Linked DNA regions of Homo sapiens. The protein of the gene in region 4 interacts with the protein of the main gene of each other region in a biochemical or structural test. Each region holds a gene or a part of one and is shown on either strand. Other genes may lie near its edges.

Evidence for each region.
Region 1: the proteins of CUL4B (region 4) and DCAF12 form a complex in vitro, tested with the Homo sapiens proteins (one study listed by BioGRID).
Region 2: the proteins of CUL4B (region 4) and SALL2 form a complex in vitro, tested with the Homo sapiens proteins (one study listed by BioGRID).
Region 3: the proteins of CUL4B (region 4) and PHIP form a complex in vitro, tested with the Homo sapiens proteins (one study listed by BioGRID).

The regions. Positions count from the first base shown.
Region 1 is NC_000009.12:34,092,199-34,095,698, forward strand, and holds part of DCAF12 (DDB1- and CUL4-associated factor 12), read right to left. Parts: intron 1,251-3,500; coding exon 1,088-1,250; intron 1-1,087. UniProt on the Homo sapiens protein: Substrate-recognition component of a DCX (DDB1-CUL4-X-box) E3 ubiquitin-protein ligase complex of the DesCEND (destruction via C-end degrons) pathway, which recognizes a C-degron located at the extreme C terminus of target proteins, leading to their ubiquitination and degradation.
Region 2 is NC_000014.9:21,520,580-21,523,346, forward strand, and holds the end of SALL2 (sal-like protein 2), read right to left. Parts: coding exon 2,125-2,767; 3' UTR 1,666-2,124; coding exon of another isoform or gene 1,429-1,665; 3' UTR 501-1,428; downstream 1-500. UniProt on the Homo sapiens protein: Probable transcription factor that plays a role in eye development before, during, and after optic fissure closure.
Region 3 is NC_000006.12:79,068,255-79,071,754, forward strand, and holds part of PHIP (PH-interacting protein), read right to left. Parts: exon of another isoform or gene 2,637-3,500; intron 921-2,636; exon of another isoform or gene 1-920.
Region 4 is NC_000023.11:120,529,963-120,533,462, reverse strand, and holds part of CUL4B (cullin-4B), read left to right. Parts: intron 1-868; coding exon 869-1,041; intron 1,042-3,208; coding exon 3,209-3,361; intron 3,362-3,500.

The DNA of each region.
Region 1 (3,500 bases), on a different chromosome or scaffold from region 4:
ATACAATTTGAGGTTCTGACATATGTATATATCCATGACATCATAACCACAATCTACATAATGAACATACTCATTACCCTGAGGTTTCCTCATGCCCTTTGTAAACTTCCTCCTTATCCCACCATGCCACATCTTAGCATAAATAGAATTTTAGTTCAGGCAGGACCACAGCAAAAAAATTACCACAGGATAGAAAGTAGGGCTCTCGGCCAGGTGCAGTGGCTCACGCCTGTAATCTCAGCACTTTGGAAGGCCGAGGTGGGTGGATCACAAGGTCAAGAGATCAAGGCCATCCTGGCCAACATGGTGAAACCCCGTCTCTACTAAAAATACAAAAATTAGCTGGGCGTGGTGGTGTGTGCCTGTAGTCCCACCTACTCGCGAGGCTGAGGCAGGAGAATCACTTGAACTCAGAAGGCAGAGGTTGCAGTGAGCTGAGATCACGCCACTACACTCCAGCCTGGCAAAAGAGCGAGACTCTGTCTCAAAAAAAAAAAACAACAACAACAAAAAAAAAGTAGAGCTTTCTAAAAGAACATGGAAACTACTAACTAATATCCTGACTGGTGGCTCCCAACAAAGGCTTCTGTGGCCACACATTTGTCTGTGGTGTTTGAAAGTCTAGTGCCCTTTTGTGTCACTCCCCCCACACCCCTTTTTTTTTGAGACAGAATTTCGCGCTCATTGCCCAGGCTGGAGTGCAATGGTGCGATCTCAGCTCACCGCAACCTCCGCCTCCCAGGTTCAAGCAATTCTCCTGCCTCAGCCTCCTGAGCAGCTGGGATTACAGGCATGCGCCACTGCGCCCGGCTAATTTTGTATTTTTAGTAGAGACGGGGTTTCTCCATATTTATTGGTCAGGCTGATCTCAAACTCCCGACCTCAGGTGATCCACCCGCCTCGGCCTCCCAAAGTGCTGGGATTACAGGCGTAAGCCACCACGCCTAGCCATCGCTCCCCTTTTTGAACACACTTCCAAATGTTCCATACAGAGCACTATACCTGTTTGGAAACCAACAAAGAAACTGAAAGTCAGAACCCATATGCAGTGCAGCTGTAGGCCTGAGGTGCACACAGGGACTCTTACCACTGCCTCGCTCCCTGGAACAGACAGACTTGACGTTGTATGATGGCTGCCGTGGATCCAAGAAGGAGACATGAGCTTGGGAGCCCACTGCATAAACTGACCATTCACTACCATAAGCCAGACACACATTCTCACGGCAATATGGCAGTTTGGTGGAGAGGAGCTGAAAATAGAGGAGAGATATAACCATGGCATCAGCAGAGAGGGTAAGGCAGGGATATTGTTTCTGGACTCCCACCTTGATGGGCTTCCCTCATATAAAAGCCACATAAAATCAAGCCCTGATTACAGAAATAACACTCTGTTCCACCCCTAGGTATACAGGAGAAAGAGGAGGTGAATGTTAATAAACGGTAAGACCTAGATACTGAAGGAGATAGGTTGGGGAAAAGGTAAATCTGGAATAAATAATCAGAAGTAGCTGGAAAGGCCAAGGCCTTTCTTGGTAGGCTGTTTCAACTATTCAGGTTGTTTCTGGGAATCGTTCCAGGGCACTAAAGCCATAGTCCCACTCTGTTCTGTCTGCCAGGAAGGGCCACCTCAGTGCTTTTCAGATAAAGAGGCTGATCTCTGGCTACCCCCAGCTCACCTTCCCACCTGAATGGGAATTGTACGCTATAGAAAGCACGCCCATGGGACTAGCTTAATCCCAGATAACCCACATCAGCCTTAACCCTGGGTCTTCGTCAGTTAGCAAATCCTCAGTGGGTGCATACAACACATAAGACAGCATACAAGGTCAGTGGAGCTCAAAGGCTATTGTGACATGAAGGAATCACTAATTCCTGGAACCCTGCTTCCTCTTGCAAAGTCCTCAAGGATAAGAAGAAGAGAAAAAGCTGGGCGTGGTGGCTAACGTCTGTAATCCCAGCACTTTGGGAGGCTAAGGCAGGCAGATCACCTGAGGTCAGGAGTTTGAGACCAGGCTGGCCAACCTGGTGAGATGCCATCTCTACTAAAAATACCAAAAATTAGCTAGGGGTAGTGGTGCATGCCTGTAATCCCAGCTACTCAGGAGGCTGAGGAAGGAGAATCACTTGAACCTGGGAGGCGGAGGTTGCAGTGAGCTGAGATCGTGCCACTGCATTCTAGCCTGGGCAACAAAGTGAGACTCTGTCTCAAAAAAAATAAAAAAAAGACAAATGATTCACAGGTAGGTTTAACTCTATGTAAAAGTTGCTTGTTGAATCTCCCTTATCCAAAAGGCTTGTGACTACAAATGTTTTGAATTTCGGATTTCTCCAGCTTTTTTTTTTTTTTTTTGAGACGGAGTCTCGCACTGTCGCCCAGGCTGGAGTACAGTGGCGCGATCTCAGCTCACTGCAAGCTCCACCTCCTGGGTTCACACCATTCTCCTGCCTCAGCTTCCCGGGTAGCTGGGACTACAAGCGCCCACCACCACGCCCGGCTAATTTTTTGTATTTTTAGTAGAGACGGGGTTTCACCATGTTAGCCAGGATGGTCTCAATCTCCTGACCTTGCGATCCGCCCACCTTGGCCTCCCAAAGTGCTGGGATTATAGGCGTGAGCCACCGCACCCGGCCCCGATTTTTAAATATCTACATATATGTAAGGAGCTATCTTGGGGATGGCACCCAAGTCTAACCACAAAATTCATTTATGTTTCATATACATCTTATACACATAGAGTGAAGGTAATTTTATGCAATATTTTAAATAATTTTCTGCATTAAACAATGTTTGGTACACTGACCTGTCAGAAAGCAAAGGTGTCCCATGTGAAATTTTCCATTTGTGGCATTGTGTTGGTGCTCAAAAAGTTTTGGACTTTGGAGGCTTTTTTTTTTGAGAGAGAGTCTTGCTCTGTTGCCAGGCTGGAGTGCAGTGGCATGATCTCGGCTCACTGCAACCTCTGCCTCCTGGGTTCAAGCGATTCTCCTGCCTCAGCCTCCCAAGTATCTGGGACTACAGACGCCCACCACCACGCCCAGCTAATTTTTGTATTTTTAGTAGAGACGGGGTTTCGCCATGTTGGCCAGCATGGTCTCAATCTCTTGACCTCATGATCCACCTGCCTCGGCCTCCCAAAGTGCTGGGATTATAGGCGTGAACCACCGCGCCAGGCCTTTTTTTTTTTTTTTTTTTTTTTTTTGAGATAGGGTCTCGCTCTGTCACCCAGGCTGGAGTGCAGTGGCAAAATTACGGCTCACTGCAGCCTTGACCTCCTCAGCTCAAGTGGTCCTCCTGCCTCAGCACTGCTACCCTCCAGTAGCTGGGACTACAGGCATATGCCACAATGTATGGCTAATTTTTAAATTTTGTTGCAGAGATAGGGTCTTACTGTGTTGCCCAGGCTAGTTTTGAACTCCTGGGCTCAAGCAATCCTCCTGCTTCAACCTCCCAAAGTGTTGGGATTACAGGCCTAAGGTATTGTGCCCAACTGGATTTTGGA
Region 2 (2,767 bases), on a different chromosome or scaffold from region 4:
TCCTAATGATAAGAATCCTCCTTTGTCTTGTTGGTAGAAATTATTAGGGTTGAATTACATTTTTTTCTTTCTGATTATGACATCAGATCTCAAGGATCATAAAGTTTAATTCACCTTGGTTCTACAGATTCGCTGATGTCAGAAGGCTGATCTGTGGTTTGAGAAAGACGGAAAAGAAACAGTTTCCAACCTCCAAACAAAACCCACAGAAAAGCCTGGTGGTGGAAGGTTCTAGGTAGAGAAAATCTAGACAATGACTGGACACAGTGGGCAAATGCCTACCTTTTGGAAATACAAACTCCACAGGGAACAATTTCCACAGAGAAGTTACATTAACTGAAGGTTGTCTTAGGACAAGGCTGAATAAAGTAAATATTTCAACACCATATGTTCAGCTTTGGCAGGAGATGTAGGTGGGAAGGGAATCTCAATTTTGGGGAATGCCCATATCACACCCCAGCTGGCTATGTAATCATGAAATAAGGAGAAACACATAAATATTTGGTTAAAACACCTTTAATGATAGAGGGAAAGACACTAATATCTCCCGTCTGTTCTTGACATTTTACTAGGTTAGGAAGCTCTGGAGCCTACAGCTTGAGGAGAAGCCATCGTTCAAGTCAGTCAATAGCAAAACCCTCACTCTCTCCTCCTCAGAACTCCTGTTCCAAATGATCCTATGTTAAGAGTAAATACTACAACTCATTACAAGACGGAGAGGCAGGGAGGACGCCACCTGGAGCTGGTCTCCCAAAGTCTGGGACTCTTAAGAACCAGACAATGACAAAGACACAAGCCCCAGCCTACGGATAGGCAAAATGGGTAGGGGTCTTGAAAGAGGAAGATAAGGAAAATACAAGGGGCCAGGGAATAAAGGAGGGAGTTATCTAAAACTAGAAGCATACTAGTGCTAGGAAATCCCCCATGATCCCTGGTACACCTCTGCACACTATGTCACTATTAGCCCAAAAGAATATTAACGAGAATGTCCAGACATTCACAAGAATTTGAGGCCTTTTCCCTTACATCATGTCCCTTTCTTAGTCACATAGGTACCAGCAAGCCCTATGTTCTAGCAACATTCCTTAACTCTCTCATCATTAGTTCATCAACCATGCTGACCAAAAATGCTCCTTAAAGATACGAACTTCACATTTCCCAAATATCTCCTGGGAGACCTCTTGGCAAGAAATCAGCTTGTTTCCCAACTTTGAGAGGTCATCATGAATGAGAAGCTGGAGAGGTCTTGGCACACTGACCAGCCAAAACCTTTACCTTAATGTGACCATCAGGGGATTTACTGGGAAAATTTTCCTATGCCCTTCCTTCATTTCTCCCTACTTCCTAGGGTTGGGTCACCAATTACTGGAGCATCTTCAGTACCGGCACCTTCTGGAGCAGGGGGAGGAAGAAGGAATGTACAGTTTGCTACTTCTTGTCTATGATGGGCTTCTCAGGCACTGCCTTGGGTGCAGGAGGCTGAAATAGGAGGGGGGCTGTCTTCTCCTTGGCTTCCCTGGATCCCATTGTTGGAGGCACCTTCCCAGCCACAGTTCCTAGGCCAAACAGCACTGGTGGGGCCAGGCTTGGAGTGGTAGTGGAGGTGGAGCTGGAATTCCAGGGCTTCATGGGCAGGCCATTTGACAGGAATGCCACATACTGGTTCTAGAAAGATAGGGGACCCATACCCACCAGCTGAGCAGAAAGGTCACCCCAGAGGAGTGGCACTGGGCCCTCCAGAGACAGCTGCCAGCCCTTTTTGGCTAGGCTGCAATGCCAAATGTAGGTGCTCAGGTGCACCTACCAAAGGGAAAGGGAGAGGAGAGAGGAGGGGGAAGAAGGGTCACACCAGGGAAGCTGGAGAGGGTTCCCCTTGAGAAAGCTGCAGAGAATCTATGTTCCTCAGGTACAAAGAATGAGGAGGGAAGAAAAATTCCTTAGGGGGCCATCCCCTTGTAAGCACAGTAATTTCCAAGCTCAGGGACTACAGAAAAGCCACTAGGGACATAACATGTTAAGAACTTAGAGAAAAAGACAAAATCAGGGCTCATAACTCTGGGAGGTCCTTTTGTGAAGCTGTTTCTGCTCTGTGGGACAAAGAGCAGCAGGTACAGAAAAACAGGCTCATGGGATCGTGGGGTCATCTTTTCGGGGAAAGGGGGAGAGCCCTGTGGAGGTGATGGAAGGCGAACAGCCAGGGACTAGAGAAAGAGCAGCAATATTCTGAGGGCCATGGGGGGCAAAGGGCTGTACCTGGTGGTGTGCCAGGAGCATATGCTTCTTGAGGGTAGCCCGCTCAAGAAAGCCCTGCCTGCAGAAAACACAAGTGAAGAGCGGCCCCTCCTTGGGGTGGGTCTTCTGATGCTCCTCCAGAGCTGCCTGGGAGGGAAAGGCCTGGCCACACACTTCGCAGGCCTTTCTGCTGCTGCTCTCTCCTGGCTCCTTTCTCATTGCCTCCTGCAGGCTCAGCTCCTCTACCAAGGTCACGCTGGTGGCTTCCCCTTCTGGGGTGAGTGCTGATGCCGGACTTGAGCTTCTCTCCGGTTTGCCCCCCTCTTCCTTGCCTCCTAAAACACCACTGCTTCCCTGCTCCATTGGCTGAGGCTGATCCAGGCTGTCAGGTGGTGGTGGTGGTGGCAAAGAAGACTGTTGAGTAGTTTTCTCATTACTGTCCATCTCCTTCCCAGCTGTGGCTGCTGCCGCCACTGTCCCCACCTCCTCCTCTGCCCCAGATGCCTCTTCTGAATCACCTCTCACTGATATTGCC
Region 3 (3,500 bases), on a different chromosome or scaffold from region 4:
GAGTTCAAGACCAGCCCTGCCAGCATGGTGAAACCCCGTCTCTACCAAAAATACAAAAATTAGCCGGACGTGGTGGCACGTGCCTGTAGTCCCAGATACTCAGGAGGCTGAAGCAGGAGAATTGCCTGAACCCTGGAGACAGAGGTTGCAGTGAGCCAAGATCATGCCACTGCACACCAGCCTGAGTGACAGGGCAAGACTTTGTCTCAAAAACAAAGCGAAATAAACAAAAAACCCCACGAAATCTCAAGTCACACAGCCTGGGTTTAAAGTTGCTAAGGCTGAGGGTGGGAAAAACATTTACTCTTTCTAAGCCTCAGTGTCCTCATCTGTATGACTGGTATCACAACAGTCACCACCTTGGAAAGTAGTCATAAATTATTAAATTAAACCATATGAAGCAGTTAGTACTGTACCTAACAGTTGGCTGTTACTTTAATTACATTCTATATTACATATTGACCCTTCGTGTTGAACAAAATCTTTGTAAATCTAAATAGGAAAAAAATTTGAGCATGTTTTTAACAACCTTTTCAAAGTGATGTTAGATCAATATATTCATTCCAATTATTTGATTTAGCTGTGAAGACCTAGAAGTGCCCTTCTTTCCTCTAGTATATAATTATTATGAAAATAAGACCCTGCTGTTTGGCACCAGTATCATTTGTCTAACTAGGCTTTCACTTCATCCTTATGTTCTGAACACCTAATTGGTTCTAAAAAAGTCAGTTTTTCAGATCTTCTCAAATCTATTCTCTCACAGTTTTGTCAGATATAAAAGGCTAGTTACACTTCTGCTCTCTATTATGTTTTTGAGTTCTAAAAGGCCAGTTTATTGGAATATAGTTCTTATTTGTACACTACTGTAGCATATAAACAAAATTATAGAAATACAATATATTGTATATACATTAATTATATTTTATTATTTATAATATATAATATACAATATATAAATATAAATTTATAGAAATACTATGTGATAATTACTGTGTAAGGCCTATATTAAAATCCCAGCCCCTAAAATTCTAAAAACATCCAAGCTTACAATTATAAATCTGTTACTAACAGTGTGGGTTAAATTATATCTATAATCTTTAAAGAAAGAATGCATTTTCTGATTTTTTAACTGTAATAGCTTCTCCACAGAAAAACAGAGTACTTACTTTGTGCTGAGTGTTCCCAAAATTTATTTATCTTCATAAGCACATAAGCTTAACTACTCTCCCTATTTCATACATAAAGAAAACTGAAGTTCAAAGGCAGCAGTTTGTCTGAGGGCACACATTTGGAAAATAGGAGAAATAGTAATCAAACCCAGGTCTCCTGATTCCAAGTTTACTGATATTTTTATTATGTTACAGCTTCCTTATTAGAACTTTAGTTTTTCTCCCCATCGACACGTAGATTTGATTAAAAACTTAATAGAACCCATATAAGTCAGTACAAGTCAAGTCCTCTAACCTGGGTAACTATTCTCAGAAGGACCCTTAGATGCCTATTATTTCTTTATAATTATAATAAAATTAATATAGAACCTTATTAAGTGTAAAAATCTTGATGGTCTATTTGCTCAAGTAATTGTGAATAAACAAGCTTCAAAGAATATGTCATATTCAGAATTTACTTAACTGTTAAGAATTCATTTAGATAATAATTCAGTTTACATTATCAATACAAATACCAACACAAATTTGTCATTTAAAGAAAATGCAATACTATAAGAAAAACAAACAAAAAAAGAAAATGCAATACTACGCTTCCAAATTTTATTCATCATAAACCAATTACATCTTGCTAAAAAAAAGAGACTCTATTCAGAATTGAGGTTTCCATAAACCAAAGTAGGGATGCTCCATAAAAAATAATTTAAAATACAACAAAATGACAACATTTAACTGCTTAAAATAACAAATTTTCAAGTTTTGATGTTTAAGTCGTCATATGTGCTAATTTGTGTAATTTTAAAATTCTCTTTAAAGCATTATTAGTAAAACGTTAAACTCAAATCTAGGAATCTGATGAAAAGTTACTGTGTATTAATTTAAGGACGAAACATCCTTTAACTGCTTATACTAAGGCCAATGTAAATAATCTTGAATGACCAGTTTCATTTTTAATGTTTCAGTTTCAAGCACAGTACTCAAAATAACACAATTCTTATACAATGACAGCAAAGTTGTTTCAGACAACGGATGTTTCACTAAGTTGCCTAGAATTTAGTGTCTCTACACCCAAAAACTAAACCAGAGTCAAACACAAGGTATGTATTTCTTGCATTATACTATAACCTTTCCCAAGACAAGTTACATGCCTTTTTCTATTCATGACAGAGACCAAATAGACCATGACACATGACCATGGGTCAGCTGGAGTCCAGAACACAGTCATCCTCCAATCTTCATGGGGGAATGGTTCCAGGAAACCCCACACCAAAATCAAAATCCAGGATGCTCTAATTCCTCATATAAACTGGCACAGTATTTTCGTATAACCTTTACACTCCTCCTGCACACTTTAAATCATCTCTAGATTACTTATAATATCTAATACAACGTAAATGTTATGTAAATAATTGTTACAATGTATTTTAAAAATTTTTTATGTATTTTTTTCTAAACTATTTTGATCTACAGTTGAATTCACAGATGTGACACCCGCAGATAAGGAAGGCCTGCTGTACATGAATTCTTCCTGTGTCTCTTCTGCAAAAAAACCTGCCATAGCCATCTGTACTGTCATGGATAACCTAGGGCTTACCTATACCACACATCTCATTCTCCTTACAATTTAGTTTTAATATAAGAAGAAGCTGCATTCGACTATGTTGCCACCTAAATTTTCTTATCAAAAACTCCTCATCCAACCATCCTTTTCTTACCTGTGATGCCTAAGCTCAAATACGGCTGTTTTTGAGTGTGTAAGGTAAATAAAGGAGGACCTGCCTCACAACTGATGATTGCCTTCTCTGTAGTAACTTGTCAACTTACATTCATCACTATTCAATAAGATAACAGTTTGTGATTTTTCAGTACCCTGCTTTATCAAATTCCATCAAGAAAAAACATGTTATCATTTTCACCAATTTGTTATAAAATACTTACACTCCTCTATATTCCATAGGTCCAATAACATTATTCACTGCAAAGTAATTTATTAACTCACAATTTCCTCATAATTTCATTGACATAGCTTCTCAAAAAATAATAGAAACTGAGAATGTTCACATTTAAAATGTCTTTCTAAAATTTTAAATTTGATTCCTATAATAGCCTTTGCCACTTTTAGATATAACCACAAAAGCAACTTAAATATCCTAAAATTAGCTGTTAAAAATTTTTTTCTAAGTAAAAGTGCATTAAAATAGGAAGTTATTTTAAATAAGTATGTTTGGTATTCTCTGGCAACTAAAGGCTACTTAGCTTAGTATTACAGATATTTTTCTATGAATTCTGAAATTTATACAAGGAAACTACTAGTAAGAATGAAACTAACCTATT
Region 4 (3,500 bases):
TGTAACATAGAATAGTGAGTTAAAAAATTAGGTAAGATGAGTAGGGCCTGATTGTGGAGAACCTGATAAGTCTAGCAAATGAAACCTACACTGTAGTGTCTCAACTATGTGGCATGGTGGAAGTAATTATTTGGACCACTTACTGAAATCAATCTACAGGGCAACTGGAAGGATCAAGGGATTCCAGTTTAGATGCTATTGGGATGATTCAGGCATAAAGTAGAAGGGACTTAGACTAGAATGAGACCATGAAAATGGAGAAAACTCATCTCTGCGGAAGCAGCGGCTAGCTATTATGTTGAGGATGAAGGAGAAGGAAAAGTTAAAAGATGATTTTAGGGTTTCCCAACTGAGAAGGTTAGTGGTATCACCACTGACAATTGGAAAGAGGACACAGTTATATGGAGATGATGAATCAAATTTTGGACGTAACTACAGTTGATAGTAAAACAGCCAGGCGGAATTGCCCTTTAAACGTGCAACTGGAGAGAAGTGAAATGTCATTTTGGAATATTTGGTAGTTGCCCACATGGTATGATAATTGACGTCTTTAAAAGAGGACTAGGGGCCGGGCGTGGTGGCTCACATCTGTAATCCCAGCACTTTGGGAGGCCAAGGCGGGTGGATCACTTGAGCTCAGGAGTTTGAGACCAGCCTGGGCAACATGGTGAAACCCCGCCTCTATTTTTTTTAAAAAAGAAGAGGACTAGGAAAAAAGCCATTGGCTAGAACAAAGAAAAGTTGTTGGTGACCTTTGGGAAAAAATGAAATAGTTTTAATAGGGGGATGGAGTGGAAGCTAGATTGAGGTAGAATGTCGTAGTTGTTCATGCTGGTAACAAATAACTAAACCTCTGTTTCTTCTTCAGAGGATGGAGAGTTAAGGAGAACACTGCAGTCATTAGCCTGTGGCAAAGCTAGAGTTCTGGCGAAAAATCCAAAGGGCAAAGACATTGAAGATGGTGACAAGTTCATTTGTAATGATGATTTCAAACATAAACTTTTCAGGATAAAGATCAATCAAATCCAGATGAAAGAAACGGTATTTCTTTCACTTTCTCTTAGTCCTAACACACTGGAATTATACATGTTAATAATCAAAATATATAAAGATTTTTATACCTGTAATACTGCCAATACCATTAATATTTTTTGTGTCTATGTCCAGCTAAATATGTTTCCTGATTTGATTTTGGGTGTTTGGGAGAGTGGTTGTACAGGATTGAGATGATACTCAACATAGTTTCATATCTTACTTTGTTTATTTAGTATTCAATCTTTAGAATTTTTCCATGCCATTAAATAGCTTCGAAAAATGGCAGATGGCAGTGTAATATTTTTACATGGCTCTTATAGTTTGTTCAACCACTGTTCATTTTGGGGCAATTAAATTCATGACTTATTAGTATTATAAATAAGATTGCAAGAAACCTCTTTGAAACTAAATTTTAATCTCTGATATATGATAAATTTGTGGAAGTAGATTTTTTTGGGTTAAAGGGTATGAACATTTTAGGAGTCTTAGTACATAATGTCATATTGTGTTCCGGAAAGGCTGGACCAGTTTATACTCTGTCCAGCAGCATATGAGAGCCTGTCTTACTATGTCCCCCAGCACTAAAGATTATATTTTCTTTTGCCAACTTGCTTGGTGAAAAATCTGAATTGATTTATTCACTATTTATTTGATTAACAGTGAAGGTGGGCCAGGTACGGTGGTTCACACCTGTAATCCCAGTACCTTGGGAGGCCGAGGCGGGCAGATCACCTGAGGTCAGGAGTTCAAAACCAGCTTGGCCAACATGGCGATACCCTGTCTCTACTAAAAATACAAAAATCAGCTGGGCGTGGTGGTGCGTGCTTGTAGTCCCAGCTACTTGGGAGGCTGAGGCATGAGAATCACCTGAACCCGGGATGTGGAGGTTGCAGTGAGCTGAGATCGCGCCACTGCACTGCAGCCTGGGTGACAGTGAGACTCTGTTTAAAAAAAAGAAAAAAAAAACAAAAACAGGGAAGGTGAATATTTTGTTTGTTTTTGCCATTTGAATTTGTAAGAGACTTCCAACTGCAGCATCCTGAAACTGATGGTTTCAGTTCCAATAAGGTTTAATGCAATATTTGAAAAAAAAAAAATTTTTTTTTTGAGGTGGAGTCTCACTCTGTCACCCAGGCTGGAGTCAGTGGCACGATCTTGGCTCACTGCAGCCTCCGCCTTCCAGGTTCAAGCGATTATCCTGCCTCAGCCTCCTGAGTAGCTGGGACTACATGCGTGAGCGACCATGCCCGGCTAATTTTTGTATTTTAAGTAGAGATGGGTTTTCACCATATTGACCAGGCAGGTCTTGAACTCCTGACCTCATGATCCGCCCATCTCGGCCTCCCAAAGTGCTGGAATTATAGGTGTGAGCCACTGAGCCCGACTGAAAAAATTTTAATGTAGGACAGCGACCAGTATCTCCAAACAAGTTCCTGTCATTTTCACATACACATCAAAGACAGGATATTTTCTTAAAGGATTACCATGTCCTTACTTTTAAAACATTTATGCTGTACCAGGAAGAAACTGCTGCAAAAAGGCCAAACTGTTTTTTTGGTTTAATTACTAAAGATGAACATTTTTACTTTAGCATCAAGATTGGTAAACCGCCTCCTAAATACCTACATTTCTGTAAGTCTTGAAGGATTGTAAGCACTAATGGCATGCATGTCTGATTTATATATTACAAAATAAAAATTAATTTTCAAAGAGGTTGACTCTTAACTAGTTTGCTTAGCCAGTTAATACCATGCCTTGAGTCAGAGATCAGACAGAGTCACCTTATAGACAAGCTATTGTCATAGAGAAATCTGGTTAACAATCCATTGAAACTGATACACACATTTAGAAGATATATCAAAGACAGAGTAAAAAAACAAAATGGTAAATTCCACATCAGCTATCTCTACTTCTAGAAAAGCAATTCAAAGATGATGTTTTTCTATTAACTAATATTAGCATTACTTCATTGGTATAGGGCAATATAATCAGAACAGAAAGGAGTTATGTTTGTAGGATTTTTCTCTGTCAGCATCTATATTTATAAGACCCCATTTAGATAATTCAGTACCTTTAAAGCAATAACAATGTCATGTCCCTAAAATGCACAATTTATGTAAATAGTCAGGTTTTGCTTCTGGTATAATTCCTAGGTTTAAAACTTTTTTGTTAGGTTGAAGAACAAGCAAGCACTACAGAAAGAGTATTTCAAGACAGACAGTATCAAATTGATGCTGCAATTGTTCGAATTATGAAGATGAGAAAGACACTTAGCCACAATCTCCTTGTTTCAGAAGTGTACAACCAGTTGAAATTTCCAGTAAAGGTAGGTACTTCTGTGTTTTCCTATTGAGCGTGTTATAAATAAAAGAAAGTACATTAGATTTTCAGACACAAATCTTGCAAACATAAAGCGTCATGACCATTTAGAGAGAGAAAAGTTTTAATTTCCCATGTTGATGCAT